2 separate regions of the Homo sapiens genome follow, and region 2 is linked to region 1. Evidence: fine-mapped expression QTL. A gene starts in region 1. The other region holds a variant in brackets. All regions are shown on one strand. Distances are between the middles of the regions.

Region 1 (16,176 bases):
GTTTCACCATGTTGGCCAGGATGATCTTGATCTCTTGACCTCGTGACCTGCCTGTCTCAGCCTCCCAAAGTGCTGGGATTACAGGTGTGAGACACCGCGCCTGGCCTTTTTTTTTTTTTTTTTTAATTTGAGATGGACTCTTGTTCTGTTGCCCAGGCTGGAGCACAGTGGTGTGATCTCGGCTCACTGCAACCTCCACCTCCCAGGTTCAAGTGATTCTCCTGCCTCAGCCTCCCAAGTAACTGGGATTACAGGCACGCACCACCATGCCCAGCTAATTTTTGTATTTTTAGTAGAGATGGGGTTTCACCATGTTGGCCAGGCTGGTCTCGAACTCCTGACCTCAGGTGATCCATCCCCCTCAGTCTCCCAAAGTGCCGGGATTACAGGTGTGAGCCATCAAGCCCGGCCAGAGACAATGTGTTTTTAAAACAATGGCATCCTTCCCACAGATTCTCACTGGGCTTTGGCGCCTGCTAGCCTCTCCAGTAGCTGGGAACAGAAAGGATGAGCAAGGGCTGGAGGTGGCCCTAAGCCGGAAGTCACCAGGCTGCCTGCTGACCCTTGGTCTGCTAAAGTGACAAATGACAGAGCAGCAGAGGACTCACCTCATCCATGCCAGAGGCAGTGAAGAAGATCCCAACCTCCTCGGCGTACCTCTGCAGCTCCCTGTACTGGTCATGGCTGAACTCCAGATGTCGTTTGTGCTCCCCGTACGTCTTCCCCCAGGAATGCTTCGAGGTGTATGGCCTCTCCAAGGCTTTCCGATTAAACTTGAATTCTAGCTCACTCTTCTGGAACTTAGCACAATCAGCCCCACACTCCTACAACACACATTAGGACATCTTTCAGTGACTGTCGTAGATTCTCAAAAAAAGGAAAAAATTCTGGAGCAACCACTATGACATCACCATCTTTATTTATTTATTTATTTAGAGACAGAGTTTCGCTCTTTCACCCAGGCTGGAGTGCAGAAGGTGTGATCTCGGCTCACTACAACCAATGCCTCCCGGGTTCAAGCCATTCTCCTGCCTCAGCCTCCCAAGTAGCTGGGATTACAGGCACCCACCACGACACCCGGCTAATTTTTGTTATTTTTAGTAAAGACAAGGTTTCGCCACATTGGCCAGGCTGGTCTTGAACTCCTGACCTCAGGTGATCCAAACGCCTTGGCCTCCCAAAGTGCTGGGATTACAGGCATGAGTCACTGCGCCCAGCCGACATCACCATCTTTAAAAACAACATAGACTGACAGAGACCTTAAGGACCTCCAAGGAAGAGGAACAGAAAAGGCAAGAAAGTCTGAAAGGAAGAAAAGGTTGTTTGGAGATGGGAGACCTCCCCCTATTTTTTTCTCTTAACATGCCAAAAGAAAAAAAAATGGGACTTTTTTCCTTTGTTTTGCATTGTAAATATTAAAAACATTGGATCAAAGAGTTAAGGAAGATTTTAAGTTATATAACTGAGCAAAGAATAGTCAACTCAGCACTGGACCAGAATTTAGTAAAGAAAAATTCTGGTTTAACTTTGACCCTAACTCTTAGATAAGTCACTTCCCAGCTCTGGACTCAGTTTCTCCATCGATATAAAAGCAGTTTGGGCTACCTCCAGGATGTGTAAACTGTCCTAATGAGGCCCTCTCAGGGACAGGAACATCCAGGGACAGTGCCCTATGCCTCTTTCTCTGATTTCAACAATAGCAACTCTGCTTTTAGCTGCTTTGCACTGGCGCTTTTCTCCATGACATTTTCTTTGAACAGGTTACATGTTAAAAAGCAGACAAACAAAACAAAAATGCCCCAGCCCCTAGATGACTTCTACTGAGCAGAGGCAATAATATAAAAGCCGGATTGTTTGACTATAAAAAAAAAAAAACAAAAAACACTCAAGAGGTCAGGCACAGTGGCCCATGCCTATAATCCAAACACTTTGAGAGGCCAAGGTGGGAGGATTGCTTGAACCAAGGAGTTCAAGACCAGCCTCGGCAACATAGTAAGACCCTGTCTCTACAAAAAATATAAAAATTAGCCAGGCATGGTGGCATACGCTTGTAGTCCCAGCTACTCAGGAGGCTGAGGGGGGAGGATCGCTTGATCCCCAGAGGTTGAGGTGGCAATGAGCTATGATGGTGCCACTGCACTCCAGCCTGAGCAACAGAGTGAGACCTTGACTCAAACAAAAACAATCTACTCAAGAAAAAGAGTAATTAAAACCCACTAAAGTCCCATCTCACGGCCATTTCTGTAGACACAGAGGTATTCATGCTATTAAAAACTTCTTGGCTGCCGGGCGCAGTGGCTCACACCTGTAATCCCAGCACTCTGGGAGGCCGAGGTGGGCAGATCACGAGGTCAGGAGATCGAGACCATCCTGGCTAACATGGTGAAACCCCGTCTCTACTAAAAATACAAAAAATTAGCTAGGTGTGGTGGTGGGCACCTGTAATCCCAGCTACTCGGGAGGCTGAGACAGGAGAACGGTGTGAACCCAGGAGGCGGAGCTTGCAGTAAGCCGAGATCACGCCACTGCACTCCAGCCTGGGTGACACAGCGAGACTCCGTCTTGAAAAAAAAAAATAAAAACTTCTTGGGTCCAGAAATGTCAGTGCTGAGATCACTACTCCTGCTCTTAGACAAATCATAAGATGGTAGAGTCAGGACTTGATGCTGGAAAGTTCAAAGAACATTAGAACTGAAAGTGACCTTGGGCAACAGAGCTCTCATTGTCTAGATGAAGATCCCAAGGCCCAGACTGACCTGACTAAAGTTGCACAGTGTCTCTAGCAGAGCTGGCCAGATCCCTTTCCTAAAGGCTGCAGCCACCTAGATTCCAGCTCAATGGAATTAGAGACAGGGTCTCGCTATGTGGCCCAGGCTGGTCTCGAATTCCTGAGCTCAAGCAATCTGCCTTCCTCAGCCTCCCAAAGTGATGGGATTACAGGAATCAGCCACTGCACCTGGTCAGTACAGCTTTGTTTCTATGGCTTCAGTATCTCTAGATATTTCTACAACTTCGGCATTCCAAGAGGAAAAACAGACTGCTCCTTCAAATTAAGAGTGGGAATTTCCCTCTAGAAAACAATGTTGCAGAAGAAAGGCTGGAGTCCTGTGGCTTAGGAGCAAAAACTGAAAAAACCCCTTACTGTATTTATTATACTAGCTATGTGACCTTGCCTAAGTCACTTATTTTCTCTTAGCCTTTAAAATGAAATCGGCAGCATCATGGCATTGGGTTGTTGTAAAAATTAAATGAGATGGTGCATGTACAGCATTTAGCTTAGTACCTGGTAGAGTAAGCACTCAAAAAATGTTAGCAATGTTATTTTTGTAAAGTATTTTTATGATTCAGTGATTAGGTTTCCATAAAACCAGTCCCGAAGGAACAGCAAGGGCCGAGGGTGGTGGCTCACACCTGTAATCCCAGCACTTTCGGAGGCCAAGGTGGGCAGATTGCTTGAGCTCAGGAGTTCGAGACCAGCCTGGGTAACATGGCCAAACCCCATCTCTACAAAAAAATTAGCCCAGCATGGTGGTTCACGCCTGTGGGTCCCAGCTACTCGGGAGGCTGAGGTGGGAGAATCACTTAAGCCTGGGAGGCAGAGGTTGCAGTGAGCCGGGATCATGCCACTGCACTCCAGCCTGGGTGATACAGAGACCCTGTCTCAAAAAAAAAAAAAAAAAAAACCAGGAAAAAAAAAAAAAAACAGTAAGAGAAAACCTCCAGCCTGGGTGACAGAGCAAGACCCTGTCTCTAACATAGATAAATAAATAAATAAACATTTAAAAAACCTATCACAAATGATACAAAATCAGTTGAGTAGCATTGATGAAGGGAAAGGAAAGATGGGGTGAGCTATCTCTAAACCAAAGAATCATAGTGCAGGCCAGGCCTTATGCTGGGGGCTGGGGTCGTAATGAAGAATATGGCAGTCCCAACAGAAGAGGGAGCACGCATTTACCGACTCATGTGTGCCAAGTGCTGGGCTCAGAGCTCTATCTGAGAATCTCATTTGATCCCCATAACAACTCCATGTGGAAAGAACTGTTGTTTTCAAGCCCCGTTTTCAAATGGGGAAAAGGGTTCACGGAGGCTAAGTAAGCAGCCCATGTTCACACAGCTAGTAGTGGTGGAACTGAGATTTGAACTCAAAGGCCCGGCTTTTAACCACTTCATATTTCATATACAGGGAATGGCGGGTGAGAGAGACCACAGCAACTTCCAGGAACTGTCATTCCTGAAAGTAACTCTGTGTCGCTGAAGAATGTCAGAGAAGAATTATGACGGGCTGGAAGGGGCCCAGTCATTAAAATCTTGAAGGCTATGTTAAAGGGTTTCGACTCTACCCGCGGGCAGGAGGGAGCCACAGAAGGTGCCAGGCAGGGGGGATGGTCTGATCAAGTCTGACTTTTAGAAAGATTATTCTGGCACCAGAACGGGGAGGAAACAGGTCGGGTTAGGAGGCAGCTGCTGTAATGCAGAAAGGTCACGAGGGTGGCGGACACGGTGAGGAAGAGGGATCCGAAGGATTCCGAAAACGGAACTGGCGGGCGGGAAGAGGCCGGACCAGGGTACCCAGCCGCGGAGGCCGTGTGGCCCTGGCTCCCCGCGGCCCCGCCCCGCCCCTCCCGGCGCCCGAATCCCGGGTCCCGGGAGCTGCCGCCTCACCTTGGCCATGCGGATCATGCGCTTGGCTACGTCCAGGTCGCCCTGGTGGTTCTGGCCGATCTCGGCAATGATGAAGCACGGGTGTTGCCCGCCCACCCAGCGCCCGGGACACAGCTCCAGCTCCAGCGGCATTGCAGCGGCTCGGGGTCCAAAGCCTCACTACCAGTCTGGGTCCGGCCGCCGCCGCCGCCGCCTCTACTCTGTTCTGTGAGCAACGCTGCGAGACCCACACGCCAGCCCCGCCACGTCAGCCCGCGGTCGCCGGGCAGCCAATCCCCTAGGCCCCGCCTCTCTCCCGACAGCCAATCGGGGCGGGGGGCGGGGGCGGGGCCTCCCGCGGGAAGGGCGGCGGGGCGGGTCGAGGAAGCTCCGCGGCCCTCTCCTGTGCGAGGCTTGAGGCTTGCTGTCCCAGAGCGTGGTCTCGGACCATCGCGGTATCCGTGCGTGCACCCAGGAGCAAGCATTCCCTGCAGGAGGCGGACGGCTGCCTGCGCAGGGCATAGTCTATGTCCTGCTCTCAGGAGCATGGGGAGAGCGCGCCCTATGGTGTAATGGAAAAAACAGGGTTGCTAGAGTTAGAATCACAGAGCTGGATCGAGTCCAGCCTATGCCAGTCACCAGCTCCTGCTCATATATACGTTACTCAGTCTTCCGGAGCGTTATTTTTGTTTCTCTCTGAAGCAAAAAAATAAAATAGAACTGTGAGATGACGTATAGAAACCCCTGATCACAATACTTGGCTTGTAGTAAGTTTTCAAGAAGTGGCGGAGGTTCCTATTATATGAGAGGCAACAGGTTCGAGAAGTTGCACTGGCTTGTCCAAAGCCATCCAGAAAGCCAAAGCAGAGATGGGACTAGTACCCGGACCTCCCAGCCCCAGGCTCTTAAAATACAATCACCTGGGCGGGCGCGGTGGCTCACACCTGTAATCCCAGCACTTTGGGAGGCCAAGGCAGGCAGATCACCTGAGGTCAGGAGTTCGAGACCAGCCTGACCAATATGGAGAAACCCCGTCTCTACTAAAAATACAAAAAAATTAGCCGGGCGTGGTGGTGCGTGCCTGTAATCCCAGCTACTCGAGAGGCTGAGGCAGGAGAATCGCTTGAACCCGGGAGGTGGAGGTTGCAGTGAGCCCAGATCACACCACTGCACTCCAGCCTGGTGACACTGCAAGACTCTGTCTCAAAAATAAATAAATTAATTAATTAATTTAAAAAATAAGATAAGTTATTTCCCAAAATAAACCTCCTTCTTTCCTGGGAACTAGACTGCCTTTGTAGGACTAACAAATTAGCCACAAGATTAGACACGTAGGAGTCATGCACCTGGAGGCTACAAGATTCTGACCCTCCCCAAATTGCTCCTGGGGATAACATCACTATTGTAAAACCTAAGACCAGTGCTTGAGATATTTTGCAGACCCTGCACTTGATGGATCAGCTGGCACCACCAGATTGATAAACTGGTTCATCTGATCTTGTGTCCCCCAACCAGGAACTGACTTGGCACAAGAAGACAGCCTTGACTTTCTATGATTTTATCTCCAACACAACCAATCAGCACTCCTGGCATACTGGCCTCTCTTAACCCACCACATTATCCTTAAAAACTCTGATCTCCAAGGTGGGGCATAGTGGCTCACACCTGTAATCCTAGCACTTTGGGAGGCTGAGGCGGGTGGATCACCTGAGGTCAGGAGTTCGAGACCAGCCTTGCCAACATGGTGAAACCCTGTCTCTACTAAAAATACAAAATGAGCCAGGTATGGTGGTGCATGCCTGTAATCCCAACTACTTGGGAGGCTGAGGTAGGAGAATCGCTTAAACCTGGGAGGCGGAGGTTGCAGTGAGCTGAGATTGTGCCATTGCACTCCAGCCTGGGCAACAAGAGCGAAACTCCATTTCAAAAACAAACAAACAAAAACCCCAAAAACCTCTGATCCCTGAATGCTAGGGGAAATTGATGTGAGTAATAATAAAACTCAGCCAGACTGCACAGCTGGCTCTGCATGAATTACTCTCTCTATTGCAATTCCCCTATTTTGATAAATCAGCTGTGTAGGTAGTGGGCATGGTGAACCAGTTGAGCAGTTAAAAATTTGGGGGCTCATTCGGGATTGCTCTTGTGCTACCTGCCCCGGTTCTGTAGACCCCCTCTGGCGATGGATCCAGAGGCCAGCCCAAGCGGCCACCTAGTTTTGGACTGGGGGCTGACTCTGGCGTCATCTCTATCGGCAGGGCACTACTAGCCCAATATGTATGGAGTACACTTTGCAATAGAGAAATTGTCCTGGGGAGATATCTCATAACTAGAGCTCCATGGCAAGGTGTCCCTCTGTAGCTCCACCATGGGGTGCCTGTAACTGTAACCTTATCACAGTGTCTGTTTGTAGCCCCATCATGGATTGTCTGCAGCTGCAGCCCCATTATGGGGTGTCTGATTTGGTGAGTAGTCTAGGTGCTGCCAACACCCCTTTCCTTCTCCCAATTGGTTCAGCTTCTTCAGGGGTCTCGGTTTACTCTCCCTAATTAGTAGGAAGAGTCTTGGTTCTGGAGACTTCTCCTCAATCAGTAAGATTTCGGGGAGACTTCTCAGATGGAGAATAGGATAGTTTGGAAGGAATACTCTTGGAATTCTTGGTTAGGGATCTTGGTTTGGAAGGCCTTCTGTCCGTCTTGTCTTTGTGTGTGTGTTTGTATATGTGGAGGGGATCTCTGAGGGAATTTCTGATGCAAGTCCAGCAGGCCTAACTCAGAAAACCCTCTGTAAGTATGGTCACATTCAGTGAGCTCTGAAAAAAAAGCTTAACAGGCCTGACTGTTAAGGGGTAACTCTCTGCTCTTTGTCTTGCCCAGAGACTACTCATTGATGCCATCCCTCCCCACCTTGAGTGGATCAAAGATGATAGGGACCAAAGGAAGACAGTTTGAGCCTTGCTAGGGTGATACTGGGTGCCCAATGAGGTGACTACTATCTGTTTTGTTATGTGTATTTTGCTTCAGCTGAGACGGAAAATGTTAATTCGGTTCTCCATGCAGCCCATCGGGCAGCATCTTACAAAGTTGAGAAGCTTTGCCTATGGTTCCATAAAACAGAAAAGGATGATATTTATTTATTTATTTATTTATTTATTTATTTTGTAGTGGGCTTGGCCCCCACAGCTATAGCATAGTGAACAGTTATCAAAGGCCGCTCCGTTCTTCTGGAAGCTGCAGAGAAAGGGAACCTGGAAACCTGGTATGCCGGCAAAAAGGGTAACAACTTATTAGCCAACTTTCTGGCCTGTATGTGTGTGTGTGTGTATGTTAAACATCACTGTCTCCTCTACAAAGGTCTGATTAATAGAAAAAAAGACTTATGAGACTAGTTTAGGCTATAGAAAATCTGGTGTACTTAGTGCTATGAATTTGTTTTTCTGTGTTGTTCTATAATGGAGGGGGCATCACAGGATAGAACATGGACTTAGGAGCCATATAAGCCAACTGTCCAAAGCCAGTTCAGCAGGCTGGTCACTTACAAACTTTTCTGTGAGTCCCTGAAACCAATACCAGATGAAGTTTCTCTCTCATGTTGTTTTATGTCCTTGAACTTAACCTTGTGACCATGTGAGGATACTTTATCTTGGATTCTGCCATCCAGAGGACAGGAATTTTGGGGTTCATGTCATAGGTAGCCCTAAAAATTATCTTGAGCAGTTAAAAGCCTTCGCAAGCTCAAAATCTTCCTTCTGGGAAGAGCAATAGAAAGTGCTTAATGCGGTAGCTCAGTACTAAGGCTTTGGCATTTGACAGTGGTGGCCCAGGTTCAATTCTTGGCTCAGGGGGCTTAGGGAGTGAGCCCTTTCTGGTTTGTTATTTGTGTAACTTTTTGCCATTTATTGATTCTTTTTCCCCATGGACCGATTCTGGTTTTCTGTCTTTATTCTTACTTTTGCTGAACTACCTTTGGGGAGACTCTAATTATTAGAAAACGAAAACAAAAACTGCTTACCATCTCTTTAAGACACTTTATGCATCCATGGTTAAGTTATGACCTTAGTTAAAATGTATTAATTTCACATGGGAGGTTACCTGTGGTAGAATTCAAAAGCCAGAAATATTGGCTGTCCTGGCTAGTCTGGTAATAAAAGATTTTGGGCTGAGCACGGTGGCTCACGCGTGTATTCCCAGCACATTGGGAGGCCAAGGAGAGTGGATCAGCTGAGATCAGGAGTTTGAGACCAGCTTGACTAACATGGAGAAACCTCATCTCTAATAAAATATAAAATTAGGCAGGCGTGGTGGCACACGCCTGTAATCCCAGCTACTCGGGAAGCTGAGGCAGGAGAATCACTTGAACCCAGGAGGTGGAGGTTGTAGTGAGCCGAGATCATGCCATTGCACTCCAGCCTGGGCAACAAGAGCAAAACTTTGTCTCAAACAAACAAAACAAAAATTTAACAGTTTTTTTTTTAAGAAAAAAGAGCTATATGGTTAAAATCAGCTTAATAAAAAGTGGATATGCAAACTGTACATATATTTAAAAAGCCTTTATGTTTGTTTTCTTTTCTCTTCTTGGATCTTATTTTTCTGAAGGAAAATTAAAGTTTTTTTTTTTCTTTTCAGTCAACTGAATTGTTTTTCTCCATTTTGTCTTCTTGCCATTCTTGAGGTCCACATGAGAGAACCTAAGATAATTACTAACAGCCTGGGACTCCTGGGGAAAAACAGAGGAGGTGTCACAGACCCCATTCTAGGAAAAACCTCTGTTTCCCTCATGTAACCCCAGAAATTGAAGGAGGATAGAGTCCTCTCAAAGTCTAAGGCTCTGTTCTGTTTTACATTACATTACCTGACACTTGTGACTTTGGGGGCAGGTTGTCCAAAATTACTTTGCATTGTGAGAGAGCTTTTAGCCTTGGTGTGTAATAACCAGGTAGCGAATATATTTTAAGGGATGGCTAATGGCAGTTAGGAGGGATACTTGGCTCTTTGCACGCTTGGATCAAAGAAGCACGCTCTTGACCACCTAGAGGCATGGAAACATCTCCACCCCACCCCCTCACCCCTGCTAAATATGAGATTCCCATAAGAGATGGGCTGATTACAAAATGAGCTGATTGGCTTTGGGTTGCCTTGCAATGAAATCCACAGTAGAAGCATTGCACTATCTTCTCTGGTAGCATTTCCCTTCTTTTTGGGGATCCAGGATCCAGTATAAAAATGGGACCCTTCATTTTGGGGATCTGTTTTTGCCTTCCAGCTGTGGCTGCTTGTTAGAACATTGGCTCACTCCTCTTAACCCACATCATGGGTTAAAGAAATCATTGCCAGGAGGCCTTCACTCCTCTAGAAGGGCATCATTTGTTAAGTCCTTTTTCTATGGTTTGGAGTAAAAGGGGCAATGATTAGAAATGTATCCCCCATGATAGGTTCTATAGCAGGTTCTACTGTAAAGTCTATGGTTCCACAACAGACTTTATCTTATGAAAGTTATGCTAAATAATGGAATTGCTCTAGATTACTTACTGGCACAGAAGTATCTGTGCAGCTGCTGGCACTTGTGGCCTATGGATAAATATATCACGTCGGGCATTATAGAGATTCAGTTGTAGGGGATTAGTGGAAAGACTGCTTAGTTAAGCGAGTAGACTCTTCATCTAGCTCATTCTTTGATCTATTTAATTTCAGGTGGTTTGGTTTATGGGGACCCTGGATAAGGAGAATACTCCAAACACTTGGTGTTATCCTCGCGATAGTCATAATAGTAGTCTCCCTGGTGTGCTGTATTCTCTCAAAGGTTTTAAGTGTTTGCACACAGCCATCTTTAGAATATCAAACGGTCTCTCTTCAGTTGGAATGACAAGAGCTGAAAGAAATGTGCAACCATGCCGGGTGTGGTGGTTCACTCCTGTAATCCCAGCACTTTGGGAGGCCAAGGCAGGTGGATCACTTGAGGCCAGGAGTTCGAGATCGTCCTGGCCAACATGGTGAAACCCTGTCTCTACTAAAAATACAAAAATTAGCTGGGTGTGGCGGTGCCTGCCTGTAAACCCAGCTACTCAGGAGGCTGAGGCATGAGAATCGCTTAAACCCAGGAGGTGGAGGTTACAGTGAGCCAAGATCATACCACTGCACTCCAGCCTGGGTGACAGAGTAGACTCTGTTTCAAAAAAAGAAATGTGCAACCATGAGGACACCATAACCTATGAATGACACGCTGAGACCAGAAACCCAAAATGATGGTAACTGAGAGTGGCGTTAAGGCCCTAAGTTTTGGTCACCGTCTCACCTAAGTAAGAACTCTCACCTAAGGGAGAATGTGACCAAAAAGGGGGAATATTTAAAAACAAAATTAGGGGAGGCCATTGTTTTGGAATGAGCACTAGGCCCCAAACCAAACCAAAATGGAGTCACTCGTGCTAAATGTGACATAGCAATACTAAGACTTTAAGGAACACATAGGTCCTAGAACAAACCAGGTTTTGTTTTTCTTCTGTAAACAGGAGGTTCCAGCATAAGGAGGTACCCTCTACTCAGTCCTTGTTCCCACCTTGCAAAACTCACTGTTCTACTGTTTCCCAGTGGGTTTCAAGACCAAATAAGTATATTTATGCTGGGATGGTGACATGAATGACTAAAGTTTTGGTCAATCTCTCAAAATTGAGAAAATGATCAAAAGGGGGGAATTGTTAAATCAAGTTTAGCCTAAAGCTGCCTCCTTATATATTTTAAGTTCAGCCTAAAGATTTTCTGTACATCATGAACTACAACAAGTGGAGATGTAAACAGACTGTAGCCCATATCTGTGCCAATCACTGAGTTTGGGCCAATCAAATGTAGCCAATTGTTCCAACTGTGTTAAAATAAGGCAAACGCTGAAATGTAAGCAATCCAGTTGCTTCTAAACCTCATTTGTGTTTTCTGTACTTCACTTTCCTTTTCCTGTCCATAAATCTTCTTCTACCACAAAGCTGCACTGGAGTCTCTATGCCTACCCTGGCTCAAAAAGCTGCTCAATTCGTGACTTGCTCATTGATCAATCAAACATCTTTAAACTTAATTCAGCTGAAGTTTTTCTTTTATCACTGTGGCAGAGGCATTTGAACTAGAGTGACTCCATCTTGAATGGGGGCTAGATAAAATAAGGCTGAAACCTTCTGAGCTGCATTCCCATGAGGTTAAAGCATTCCTAGTTACAAGAAGAGACAGGAGGTTGACACAGGGTACATGTCACAAAGGCCTTGCTGATAAAAAGTAGTGGTAAAGAAGTCAGCCAAAACCCACCAAAACCAAGATGGCAATGAGAGTGACCTCTGGTTGTCCTCACTGTTCATTATACACTAATTATAATGTATTAGCATGCTAAAAGACACTCCCATCAGTGCCATGACACTTTATAAATGTCATAGCAACATAGAAAGTTACCCCATATGGTCTAAAAGGGGGAAGAACTCTCAGTTCCAGAAAGTGCCCACCCCTTTCCTGGAAAACTCATGAATAACCCACCCCTTCTTTAGCATATAATTAGGAAATGATCATTAAAGTGGACAGCCAGCAGCCCTTGGGGGTGCTCTGCATATGGAATAGTCATTCTTTTTTTTTTTTTTTTTTTTTTTTTTATGCAGAGTCTCACTCTGTTGCCCAGGCTGGAGTGTAGTGGTGCAATCTTGGCTCACTGCAACCTCCACTTCCCAGGTTCAAGTGATTCTCCTGCCTCAGCCTCCTGAGTAGCTGGGATTACAGGCATGCGCTACCACGCCTGGCTAATTTTTGTATTTTTATTAGAGATGGAGTTTCTCCATGTTGGTCAGGCTGGTCTCAAACTCCTGACCTCAGGTGACCTGCCCACCTTGGCCTCCCAAAGTGCTAGGATTACAGGCATGAGCCACCGCTCCCGGCCAGAATAGCCACTCTTTATTCCTTACTCTTTTTTTTTTTCTGAGACAGAGTCTTGCTCTGTCACCCAGGCTGGGATGCAGTGGCATGATCTCGGCTCTCTGCAACCTCCGCCTCCCAGGTTCAAGCAATTCTCCTGTCTCGCCTCCCAGGTAGCTGGAATTACAGGTGCCCGCCACCACGCCTGGCTAATTTTTGTATTTTTGGTAGAGACTGGGTTTCACCATGTGGCCAGACTGGTCTCGATCTCCTGACCTTGTGATACACCTGCCTCGGCCTCCCACATTGCTGAGATTATAGGCATGAGCTACCATGCCCAGCCTATTCCTTTACTCAAGTTGAACGATTTTCAAAAGCCAAAGAAGCAGTTTATAACCTTAAAGCATTTAGCAAACCTAATATCTGACCTGCCTAAATTAGACTAAATATCTTTATTTTACCAATAATCTTCAAAATTGTTTTTATTTCCCAAAGGTTACTAAAGTCATGTGAACTAAAAGGCATTACAGTTTTTATTTTTCTTTCAAAATATTTAAGTACTTATTTTTCTTGAAGCCAATTAATCAGAGCTCTTTTATATAAACATCACACGCACAACACATATATAACTACACAGACAGACAGATGGAAGAAGATCCAGTAGCTGTAGGATTTTTCATTTGCCAGTTTTTATATTTCTTAATTGGATTACTGGCTTTAGAGTGGAGCCCTTTGTAGAACAGGGTGAGGAAAGCAGTTTCTAGGACCTAATAAGCAGGCACACCTGGAAGGTAAAATGGATTCCCCCAATATTAAGGGTTTCATTTTTAGACCAGATCTCAGATCCCAAAAGGAGAAATGCTATGAACAAGACAGTGCAATGATTTTACCATGCATTTAATTGCAAAGCAATCCAAAGCTAACCAGCCCATTCTGTGACTAGCCCATCATCCATGGGAGTCTTGTCTCTCAGTCAGGGGGTGTGGGTGACATTTCCATACTTTTTTTTTTTTTTTTTTTGAGAAGGAGTCTCACACCATCACCCAGGCTGGAGTGCAGTGGCATGATCTCAGCTCACTGCAACCTCCACCTTCTGGGTTCAAGCGATTCTTCTGCCTCAGCCTCCTGAGTAGCTGGCACTACAGGCATGTGCCACCACGCCCAGCTAATTTTTGTATTTCTAGTAGAGATGAAGTTTCACCACATTGGCCAGGCTGGTCTCAAACTCCTGACCTTGTGATCCACCTGCCTTGACCCCCTCAAAGTGCTGGGATTACAGGTATGAGGAACCACGCCCGGCTCATTTCCATGCTTTCTAGGTGGCCAAGAGCATGCTTCTCTGATCCGAACATGCAAAGAGCTGAGAATTCCCCCATAATTGCCATTAGCTATCCCCAAAACTGTATTTCCTACCTAGCTATTACACACTAAATTTCTCTCATAATGTGAAGTAACTTCTGGTACCCCCAAAACTCAAAAATATCAGATAATGCAATGCAGAAAAGAACAGAGCCTTAGATTTTGAGAGGGCTCTAACTGCTTCCAATTCCTGGGGTTTCATGAGAAAAACAGAGGTTTTTCCCAAAACAGGCTCTGTGGTGCCTCCTGTTTTACCCAAGGAGTCCCAGGCTGTTAGAGCTTGAATATCTTTTTGGGTATCTTTACAGCAGTGGTCCACTCTACTGGTACTAATTTACTGTATTTGTCCATTTTCACACTGCTGATAAAGACACACCCAGGACTGGGTAATTTATAAAGAAAAAGAGGTTTGATGGTCTCACAGTTCCACGTGGTGGGGGAGGCCTCACAGTTATGGTGAAAGGCAAAAGGCACGTCTTACATGGCAGCAGACGAGAGAATGAAAACCAAGCAAAAGGGATTTCCCCTTATAAAAACCATCAAATCTCGTGAGACTTACTCACTACCATGAGAACAGTATGGGGGAAACCGCCACCATGATTTAATTCTCTCCCACTAGGTCCCTCCCACAACACATGGGAATTATGGGAGCTACAATTCAAGATGAGATTTAGTTGGGGACACAACAAAGCCATATCACCCACCCATTGCAGTGATACTGAATCAAAAGTTCAAGTGGTCACTTTTTGGTCACAAAGGGACCTTTTCCAGCTGTCCCATCAGCCCTTAAATTTCACCTTTGGGGGGAAAAGTTTCCCCAGGTTCTAAGGTCCTGTACGTGCCTAATCCTGTCACTCATAGCTGTCAGCAAAGAGTACAAGGCAGATTTAATTTTTTTTAATCAATTAGTTGCCTAAGCTTTTTATTTGCCTTTTGTAAAGGCTTTAAATAAAAATATGGAAATCTTTTTAAACTCTTCTGCATATCAGCTGGGCGCAGTGGCTCACGCCTGTAATCCCAGCACTTTGAGAGGCCAAGGCGGGTGGATCACAAGGTCAGGAGTTCAAGATCAGCCTGGCCAATATGGTGAAACCCCCTCTCTAATAAGAATGCAAAATTAGCCGAGTGTGGTGGCGCATGCCTGTAATCCCAGCTACTCAGGAGGCTGAGGTAGGAGAATTGTTTGAACCCGGGAGGCGGAGGTTGCTGTGAGCCGAGATCACGCCATTGCACTACAGCCTGGGCAACAAGAACGAAACTCCATCTCTGAAAAAAAAAACAAAAAACAAAAAAACTCTTCTGCATATCAACAGACATCCCTAGATGAGACTAATTAGGGAGCCCTCATTTTCAAATGCATTTCAGTGCAGTTTTATTCATTTGGAATGTTCCACTGTAAGTTACCTTTAGTACGATTTCACCATTTCTGTAAGACTTCGCTGCTTCCAGGGCCCTAATACTTACGCATGTATAAGTCAGAAGGAACTCAGTTCTTCAGAAATTAAGTATCAAATTTTTACCTAGGATATTGGGTTTGCTCTCGGGTTCCCTTGATTAACTTAGCCAATGATTTTTTTTCCTGTGTAAGCACTGAAGAAAAATGAAACAAAGGGGTGAAAAACAAAAATCCCTGTGAATTTCCAAAACCCAAATTTTACACCCCCTGCAATATTACCATTTACTACCAGTTTCTTTCTGACCCAGTCAGTTGTAAGAGGCCTTAACTGGATCCAAGCCAGTTAATTACCAGATCTAATTCAATCCCGGACCCAGTCCAATTTCTGTTGTGATTTCCAAACCCAGTTTGGAACAGAAATTTCCTCAAAGAAACTCGGAGAGCTCAAAGCACAAATCCATGGAGTTCTGAAATCTGAGCAAGAACTTACCATGATCCCCAGCTGCTCCAAGAGATCAATGGACACAAATGGGTCCTGCAGGTACCTTGCTTGATCACTCAGCACCCCTGGGGGTCATTAGAAGAAGCTCTACTTCAGATCCTGTTTCTGACCCCATCTGATGAAAGCAAAACTTCAGCTGAATTAAATTTAAAGGAGTTTAGTTGAGAAATGAACAATCCATGAACTGGGGAGCCTTTTGAGCCAGGCTAGGCTCAGAAACTCTAGCACAGCCATGTGGTGGAAGAAGGTTTACGACAGAAAAAGGGAAGTGATGTACAGAAAACGGAAGTGAGGTTCAGAAACAACTGGATTGGTTACAGCTCAGCATTTGTCTTATTTGAACACAGTTCAAACAGTTGGCTACATTTGATTGGCCAAAAACTCAGTAATTGGCACAG
Region 2 (8,000 bases), 25 kb before region 1:
CTTTACTTTACACTCAAGGTCCCTGATCAGTCTTCCCCAGGCAGTACCTTGGGAGCAGGCACTCTGTTGCCCCCTACACTGCTCAGAATATCTCATACATGGCAGGAATTCAACCAGTATAGATTGAATTCAGAGACTCAGAGGAGGAGCCTTTACAACAAAGTGCAAAGGAAAGGGCTGAGGCTATGTAGGCGGAGCCAGGTTCAAATCCCAGTCTGTGGGGTATAGGCCACGTTTTAGTTTCTCTGTCAAATGGAAACTTATCCTGTCAGATGACTGTAAGGATTGGTGATATTACAGAATGTACGTGGAACATAGAATGCTCTCAATACATGCAAACTCTGATTCTTTTGGTTACCATTCAGCTCAGTATCTCATTGTAAACATGGGGAAACTGAGGCCCATACAGGGTGGGTGACTTGGCCAGGGTTGCAGACAGCCAAGATGAAACATAACATAGGGATGAGATTCTTAACTCCTGACACACCGTTCTCCAGGGCACACACCTTACCGCCACTTTGTTTGGTAAAATAGAAATATGAAGGACTCATAAGATGGTGAATGTGGCTGTTATGCAGATGGCAAGAAAAGGAGCCCCCGAGGAAGGGGCAGATAATACAGGCAGATGAGGGAATGAAGGGTACCTGAAGCTCATGACCAGTGTTTGTCTTCTCTATAAATGCTTTCAAATAAATTACGTGTTTTATTACTCTATATCCTCCACGTAAGAGTACAAGGAATCAATTCTGCTTGGAATGTGGTGCCAGGAAAAAATGTCAAGTGATAATCATGCATCCTGTTATGTTTTACTGTCTGCTCAGAGAGCCAAATTAAGTGCTCAGCTGTTATAAATCTTACTCTGGTTTCTGGTCTAATTCTCTCCTGTTTCCTCTATAAAGAAACTATTTCTTTTTACTTTATTTTAATTTCCTGGTATAGATGCATCTTTGATTTGGGGAAGCAGGTAGGCCCCACTAGAATAAAAGGTGACAACAGTCCCAGGCATGCCTGGTGTTTGGTCTTTGCCTTGACCCCGACAGCCTACAGGTTAGGTGTGTGTGTGCCTGGCAGCCCCAGGATGCCTGCCTGGCTCTATGACTCAGAAGGCAAGAAGGTCCAGGCCACGGCTTCCAGGAAGCCCTGATAGTCAGCATGCCAGGCAGTGCTTCTAGGCCCACCAGTTCCTCTGTCTGAAGGTCACTGTTGCACAAGGAATAGCTGCATCATCACCCACCCACCTCTGCAACGACTCACTGCCCTTCCCACCAGTGCCACCCTGGCTTAGGAAATGCCACAGGCTCTTCTGGTACCTCAGGGAACACCGTGCCTAAATGTTTCTCAGGGCTTACCTGCTCCAAGGGAGCCCAGACTTGACTTATTCCAGGGCCTCACTCCTGTTACATATTCTGGAGTCTAGGAGTACTGGGGCCATGGGCTTCAGAGAATTAGTGGAAGACTCTAATGTGACCCTAGGTGGCCAGAGAAACTGCTAAAGTTAGATAACATGTGTCTCCTGCTGCTGCTACAGGCCAGAGTGACATGCATTACTGAAGAGAAGCCTGAAGAAGCTGACACGGGTGGGAGCACATTCACTGATCATTTCATCAGCCTGGCTCAGGGAGGGCTGGTCCTGACCATCCCTCTCAGGCCAGCCTATCCTTTTTCCACACACGGCAGCAGAACCGAGTAGAGTCCGGCAGGACACACCTTCTCATTGCAGGCCATCTCACAGGGCAGCAGCTGCTTGGTTGGGGAGCCCAGGGCACGCTCCACAAGACGCACTGACCGCACCAGCTCGGCCAGTTCTCCAGGCTCCAGCGAGGCCGAGTGGTCACTCCCCTTCCAGGTCTTGTCCAAAGTTATGTGACGTTCCAACACCTTGGCCCCCAGAGCCACTGCGGCCACAGATATCGCTATGCCTGTTTCATGCCCAGAATACCCTATGGGAATGTCAGGAAAGAGCTTCTGATATTCCTTTAAAATGGAAAAAGAAAAATAACATTAAATATCATGCTGCTTTATGCATATTCTCCAGGTGAAGCGTATCTGGTTGAGCCCCGGTTTAGCCACTCACTAGCTGTGCAGCCAGGGGCAAGATACTGAGGCTCTCTGAGCCTCTCTTTCCTAGGGATGATAATAATACCTGCTGAGTGTTGCTGTAAATGCATGAGAAGCACTCAGCACATTGTAAATGCTCTAAAAATGGTTACTGTTATTCTAAAGAATGCATTTTAAGAATGTTTCACATTGCACAATACACCAAGAGTAACAACAGAACTATAAATGAATGTCTAACCTCATTCAAAAACCATCTGTCACATTTAATTAGCCTGAGCTGCTGAAAGCAAGTGTGCTATATGCACAAATATCATCAATAATATACACAGCCCAATCTCAAAACAATCCTTTGGTGAAAATGATAAATAATTAATCCGTTATCTATAATTCACTGAATGCAACAAAAGACACTCTAAGATGGGTGAGTCTTGTTGGTGAGGGTGACCAGAAAGCTGAGTACAGTAGAAAGACTCAGGTAGCGTGTATTATTATTTTATTGTTATTTATTATTTCTTTTTGAAACAGAGTCTTGCTCTGTCACCAAGGCTGGAGTGCAATGGCGTGATCTCAGCTCACTGCAACCTCTGCCTCCTGGGTTCAAGCGATTCTCCTGCCTCAGCCTCCTGAGCAGCTGGGACTATGGGTGCCCGCCACCACGCCCAGCTAATTTTTGTATTTTTAGTAGAGACAGGGTTTCGCCACATTGGCCAGGCTGGTCTCAAGCTCCTGGCCTCAAGCGGTCCACCTGCCTCAGCCTCCCAAAGTGCTGGGACTACTGGCATGAGCCACGGTGTCTGGCCTCAGGTGGGATTTAACAAAAGATTAGGAGGGTTAGGTGGCAAAGGCCTTGAAAACCAGGCTTAAGGGTGTGTGATGGAGTGCGGGTTGCTACAAGTTTGAAAATTCAAACCACTGTACTATGTGCAGGCCCAAGATGGGATAGGCTGGCAGAATAACTCCTGCAATGTGTAGTGTCAAGAGAGAGGACATGACAGCACCTTGAGTGGGGACGGAGATACACTGAAAAGGAAAATAGCTGGGGTCACGTCTACTAAACTGTTAATTATCGGAATCTCTGTGGGATGGGAGTGCAGGGGATGTTTACTTTCGACATTACATATTTCACAGAAATCATTTTTAAATTTTAAAAATAACGTGATTTAGATAAGCTGTAAGTGAAGCAAAAACAGGATTGGGAGGGACAGAAAGTTTAGGTAAAAAGAGAGTAATGTCAGTTTTCAAAAAGGCTAACTTTTTAAGTTAATGGCTGTATAACAACATGTAAGAAAGCTTATATTATGGGGAAAACAATGTCAAATACTATACTGAAAGGAAAATATAAAAGGAAAACAACTGCAATATCAGGATTCTAGTATGTGTGGATAGATAGATAGAATTCCATTAATGTTACTATAATAGTTTTAATGATAATTACATACATATTTTCGAATAAAGTTAAATTTCCAGTGCTACAGGAAGAACTGAGAGAGATGGCGTGAGACAGTAAGAGACAAAGGCCTAGGGGGACATGCCCAGGTTCTAGTTCCAGCTTTGCCACCAAGCTGCTGTGGGATCTCAGGCTTCCCGACTTGGGACTGGATTTCACCATCTGTGAAATGACTGAGTAGGCAAAATCGTGGGAGAGAGTAATTTCCATCAAGGCTGTCACTATAACTAGTATGAGCCTCAGGGATGCTCAGCATTAGAAAATAAGAGAGTCAGCAAATAAAGCAGAAAAAGCCAGGAAGTTTCAAGAAGGCCTCCTATAACTCAGTATGAAAAAAGATGAATATTTATCTGTACGCTAGTGTTCATAGCAGCATCATTCACAATAGCCAAAAGGTAAAATCATCCCAAATGTCTGTTGACAGACAGACTTTTTTTTTTTTTTTTTTCCCCCTGAGAGTCTCACTCTGTCACCCAGGCTTGAGTGCAGTGGTGCAATCTCGGCTCACTGCAACCTCTGCCTCCTGAATTCAAGCGATTCTCCTGCCTCAGCCTCCTGAGTAGCTGGGACCACAGGCACGCATCACCATGCCTGACTAATTTTTATATTTTTAATAAGAAGGGGTTTCACCATGTTGGCCAGGCTAGTCTCGAACTCCTGACCTCAGGTGATCTGCCCACCTCGACCTCCCAAAGTGCTGGGATTACAGGCATGACCCACCGCGCCTGGCCAAGAAAATTTCATTTACAGTCACCCTCTTTAGAATGTATGTGCTTCCTCAACTGCTTAGCTCGAATTTGATTTGGTAACAGCAAGACTGTCAAAGGATGTTCAAATTATAAAGTATGCCATGTTTGTTAGAATTTTGGTTATAAAAAAGACTACGCCTTCCCCATAGTAAATGGCCCAAGAAGGGAACCCCCTCCCTCCTGCTCACCGAGATGACCCGCAGGTTGACGTCCTCAGGCTGGAGCGGGTATGCGCTGGTACACTGCAAGAAGCAGAAGTTGGGGTTGAGGGGCTTCACGATCTGATAAACTTGCTTCATGGTGTCCATTGACTGCATCCCACTGGAGATCACCATTGGGCGACCTGAGTAATCCAGCACCAACACCATCAGCACTTTCTCTTTAGAGGTTCTGACTCTCCCCAACACATCCCAACTGCTGGTCTCATCATTCAACTGAACTCCACAGACATCTCTTAAAACACTGTGCCAGCCCCTGTGG[G/A]GGAACAGAGAGGAGCTTGTTGGGTTCCTGCCCTCGGCCACAGGAAAGGTGGGCTCCCCTCTGCCCCCCGACAGTGTTCTTGAGCAAAAGGAACTGAATTAAAGAGGCAGAGGAATTTCACACTGCCAAGAGGAAAATGAGTATCTTATCTGATTAATAGGTTGTATACCATGGCAGTACAGTAGAATGAGTGCTGATTCAAGAGTGTGAATGAATGTGAGGTGTGGAGCTGCCACTTCTAGCTGTGCCTGGGCAGAGTACTGTCCGTCTCTGAGTCTCAGAGGCCTCCCCTGTGAAATAAGTATCAAGCATCATAATCATGACCTGTTTCAGTCCTAGGAGTGTTATGAGGATCAAATGAAATTGTTCATGTTGTAAAACCACTTTACACGATCATGTCCCACTGCGGTCTCAAACTCAAGCAATCCTCCTACCTCAGCCTCCCGAGTAGCTGGGGCCACAGTAATGCACCACCATACCCAGCTAGGTTTTATATATACTGTCATATCCTTAATTTCTTATAAATTTTAGTTAAAAAATTTTCTAGGACAGGTGCAGTGGCTCACACCTGTAATCCCAACACTTTGGGAGGCTGAAGTAGGAGGATCACTTGAATCCAGGAGTTCAAGACCAACCTGGGCAACATAGACAGACCTTGTCTCTATTAAAAAAAAAAAAAAATTCTTAAAAAGAATTTCTAAATGTCTTATAAAAACTGTCATATTCTTAATTCATTTTCTTTCAAATTAGCTTACAAAAAATGGAAGTACAGGCTGATTGAAAAGAGGTTTCTGGCAGGGCACAGTGGCTCATGCCTGTAATCCTAGCACTTTGGGAGGTCGAGATGGGAGGATTGCTTTAGGCCAGGAGTTCAAGACCAACCTGGCCAACACAGCGAGACCCTATCTCTATTTAAAAAAATGAAAAGAGGCTAAAATTTGTCTTCATGAAATCTGCTGAAAGTGGGCCACCATGAGGGGAGTAAAAATATGAAGGTTTGGACTCCCTTCGATTTTAAGTCAAAAATTAGACACTTACCTTTTTTGGCTGTCTTTTCCAGATAAGGAAAATTATTAGTGTCTCCAGATCCAACTTTGAAAAATGGAACATTCAGTTCATGCAGGAATTCAACTGCCATCTACAAAAATCAAAGAGGGAGCTCCTTTTCACCATTGTCCAAAAACACTGTTGTTATGACAGGCAAGGAATAACATACAAGTAGAAAAACCCCTCATCTTAGGCAGTAGAGGGACGCTCAGCAACTTGAAAGCAGGCAAAGATTTGTTCTCAGTCATTTCATTCAAATGCAAACATTCATTTGCATCCACCCATCCATTAGCCCAACAAACGTTTGGTGCTGGTCTTTGCTGGCTACAGGAATCTGGAAAAGGGCTGGGCGTGGTGGCTCATGCCTGCACTTTGGGAGGCCGAGGCGGGCAGATCACCTGAGGTCAGGAGTTTGAGACTAGCCTGACCAACATGGTGAAACCCCGTCTCTACTAAAAATATAAAAATTAGCCGGGTGTGGTGGCGGGCACCTGTGATCCCAGCTACTCAGAAGGCTGAGGCAGGAGAATCACTTGAACCTGGGAGGCGGAGGTTGCAGTGAGCTGAGATCATGCCACTGCACTCCAGCCTGGGCCACAGAGCGAGACTCCATCTCAAAAAAAAAAAAGAATCTGGAAAAGAACCTTTCCCCTGGCCAGACCCTACCTGCCCCAGGGGCCCAAGGCCAAATGAACAAACATGAAACGGTCATGACCTAATCCTGACCCAGAAAACCAGGCAGTGAAAACATGAATAGCCTCAAAGGCTTTCCCTTCTACTCGGCCAAACGAGCAGGAAAAGGGGCTATTTCAATTCTTGGCGAAAGGGGGAAAATGGAGCATTTTTTTGCCCAGCCTCTACATAAGGATCCATGGCTGGCAGGGCCCATTCAACCCGAGCCCTTTCAGGCCTCAAAGCACGCTGCCTACTTAAAAGTGAACCTCAGTCACTTTTTTCAGATATAACGTCACTGCTTGAGGTTACCTATTTAGTGCTCTTCAACATCCTTCTCTAGTATTCATCAACAAGACTCAGGAAATTGGTAAATGTCAGCAAATGCTTGCTGAAGGAATCAGTGGATCACAAGTTATAAGAGTAAAATCTCAGTTTGCTGTCAAATTATAAGAACTCAAAAACTTTTTATTATCATTTCTTTCCAGCTTCAGTAAGGTGTAATTGATATACTAAAAACTGCACATAATGTAATTTGGTGAGTTGGGACTTAAGTATACACTACTGCTACCATCAGCACAAGAGTAATAAACATACACATCACCTTCAAAAGTTTTCTTGAGTCCCTTTGTTTTGTTTTGAAGTTGGAAATCAAAAGTCGAAAAAATCAATGTCTCTGAATGGTGACTCAGAAATAAGTTAGGGCTTAGTGAGTTGCTCACACTTGATCACATGGGCACAAATCTTTCCCTCTCCCAGGGAAGTTGCTGAAATGAAATGCAAACTCTGATTGGTCTAGGACCGACGGACCGACGGACCAACCAACCTACCTCCCTTCCTGTCTCCTTCCCTCCCTCCCTTCCTTCCTCCCTCCCTCCCTTTCCTCCCTTTCCTTCCTCCCTTTCCTTCCCTCCCTCTCTCCCTTTCCTTCCTCCCTCCCTCCCACCGTTTCCTTCCTTTCCTCCCTTCCTTCACCTTTCTCACTGCTCTTCCTCTGCTTTATTTTTAACTCTTCTCTTTTCCCCTTCCATCTTTTTCTTTTCTTTTGTGGTAGAGACGGGGTCTTGCTATGTTGCCCAGACTGGTCTCAAACTCCTGGGGTCAAGCAATCCTCCTGCCTCAGTCTCCCAAGTAGCTGGGACCACAAGCACGTGCCACCACATGTGGCTAATTTTTTTTTTTTTTTAATTTGCTGTGGAGATGGGGTCTTGCTATGTTGCCCGGGCTGTTCTCAAACTCCTGACCTCAAGCAGTTGTCCCACCCTGGCCTCCCACAGTGCTGGGGTTGCAAGCTTCAGCTGCCATGCCCAGTACCTTCCATACCTTTCCACCTCACTCCTTCCTGTTTGTGTCTCATAACACTGCTAACTAGCCCTAAGACAGAACTGAAAAAACATCAGTTTTAAATATATTTTTTCAATAAAATCTAATTTTCCTACCCTTCTCACTTCATTTGGCAGATGAAGAGAGTGCTTTCTGTTTAAAGAAGGAACCTTCCACTGAGTTTTCTTTTGTATAATGTTCATCTTGTGGGAGTGTGGTGTGGC

The links. PIP is the estimated chance that this variant, and not a neighbour inherited with it, causes the effect.
Region 2: its variant is fine-mapped to the expression of NANS in whole blood (TOPMed, PIP 0.94).

What each region holds. Positions count from the first base shown.
Region 1 is chr9:98,045,430-98,061,605 of GRCh38, reverse strand. It overlaps NANS (N-acetylneuraminate synthase), which reads right to left and starts at 4,874. Exons shown (of 6, transcript NM_018946.4): 1 at 4,666-4,874; 2 at 609-824. The coding sequence starts at 4,797. It overlaps LOC124902227 (a long non-coding RNA gene), which reads right to left and starts at 16,034. Exons shown (of 2, transcript XR_007061687.1): 1 at 15,767-16,034; 2 at 13,403-15,146. It also overlaps a transcript of TRIM14 not described here. RefSeq lists enhancers at 4,156-4,275, 5,316-5,365, 15,782-15,831, 15,932-16,001 and silencers at 4,526-4,695, 4,776-5,125.
Region 2 is chr9:98,074,790-98,082,789 of GRCh38, reverse strand. NANS (N-acetylneuraminate synthase) reads right to left here. Exons shown (of 6, transcript NM_018946.4): 3 at 5,773-5,872; 4 at 4,443-4,597; 5 at 1,708-1,974. It also overlaps a transcript of TRIM14 not described here. Among named protein-coding and RNA genes, the nearest start is that of NANS, 22 kb to the right of the region's middle. RefSeq lists an enhancer at 7,351-8,000. The variant G/A (reference allele first, on the strand shown) is at 4,735.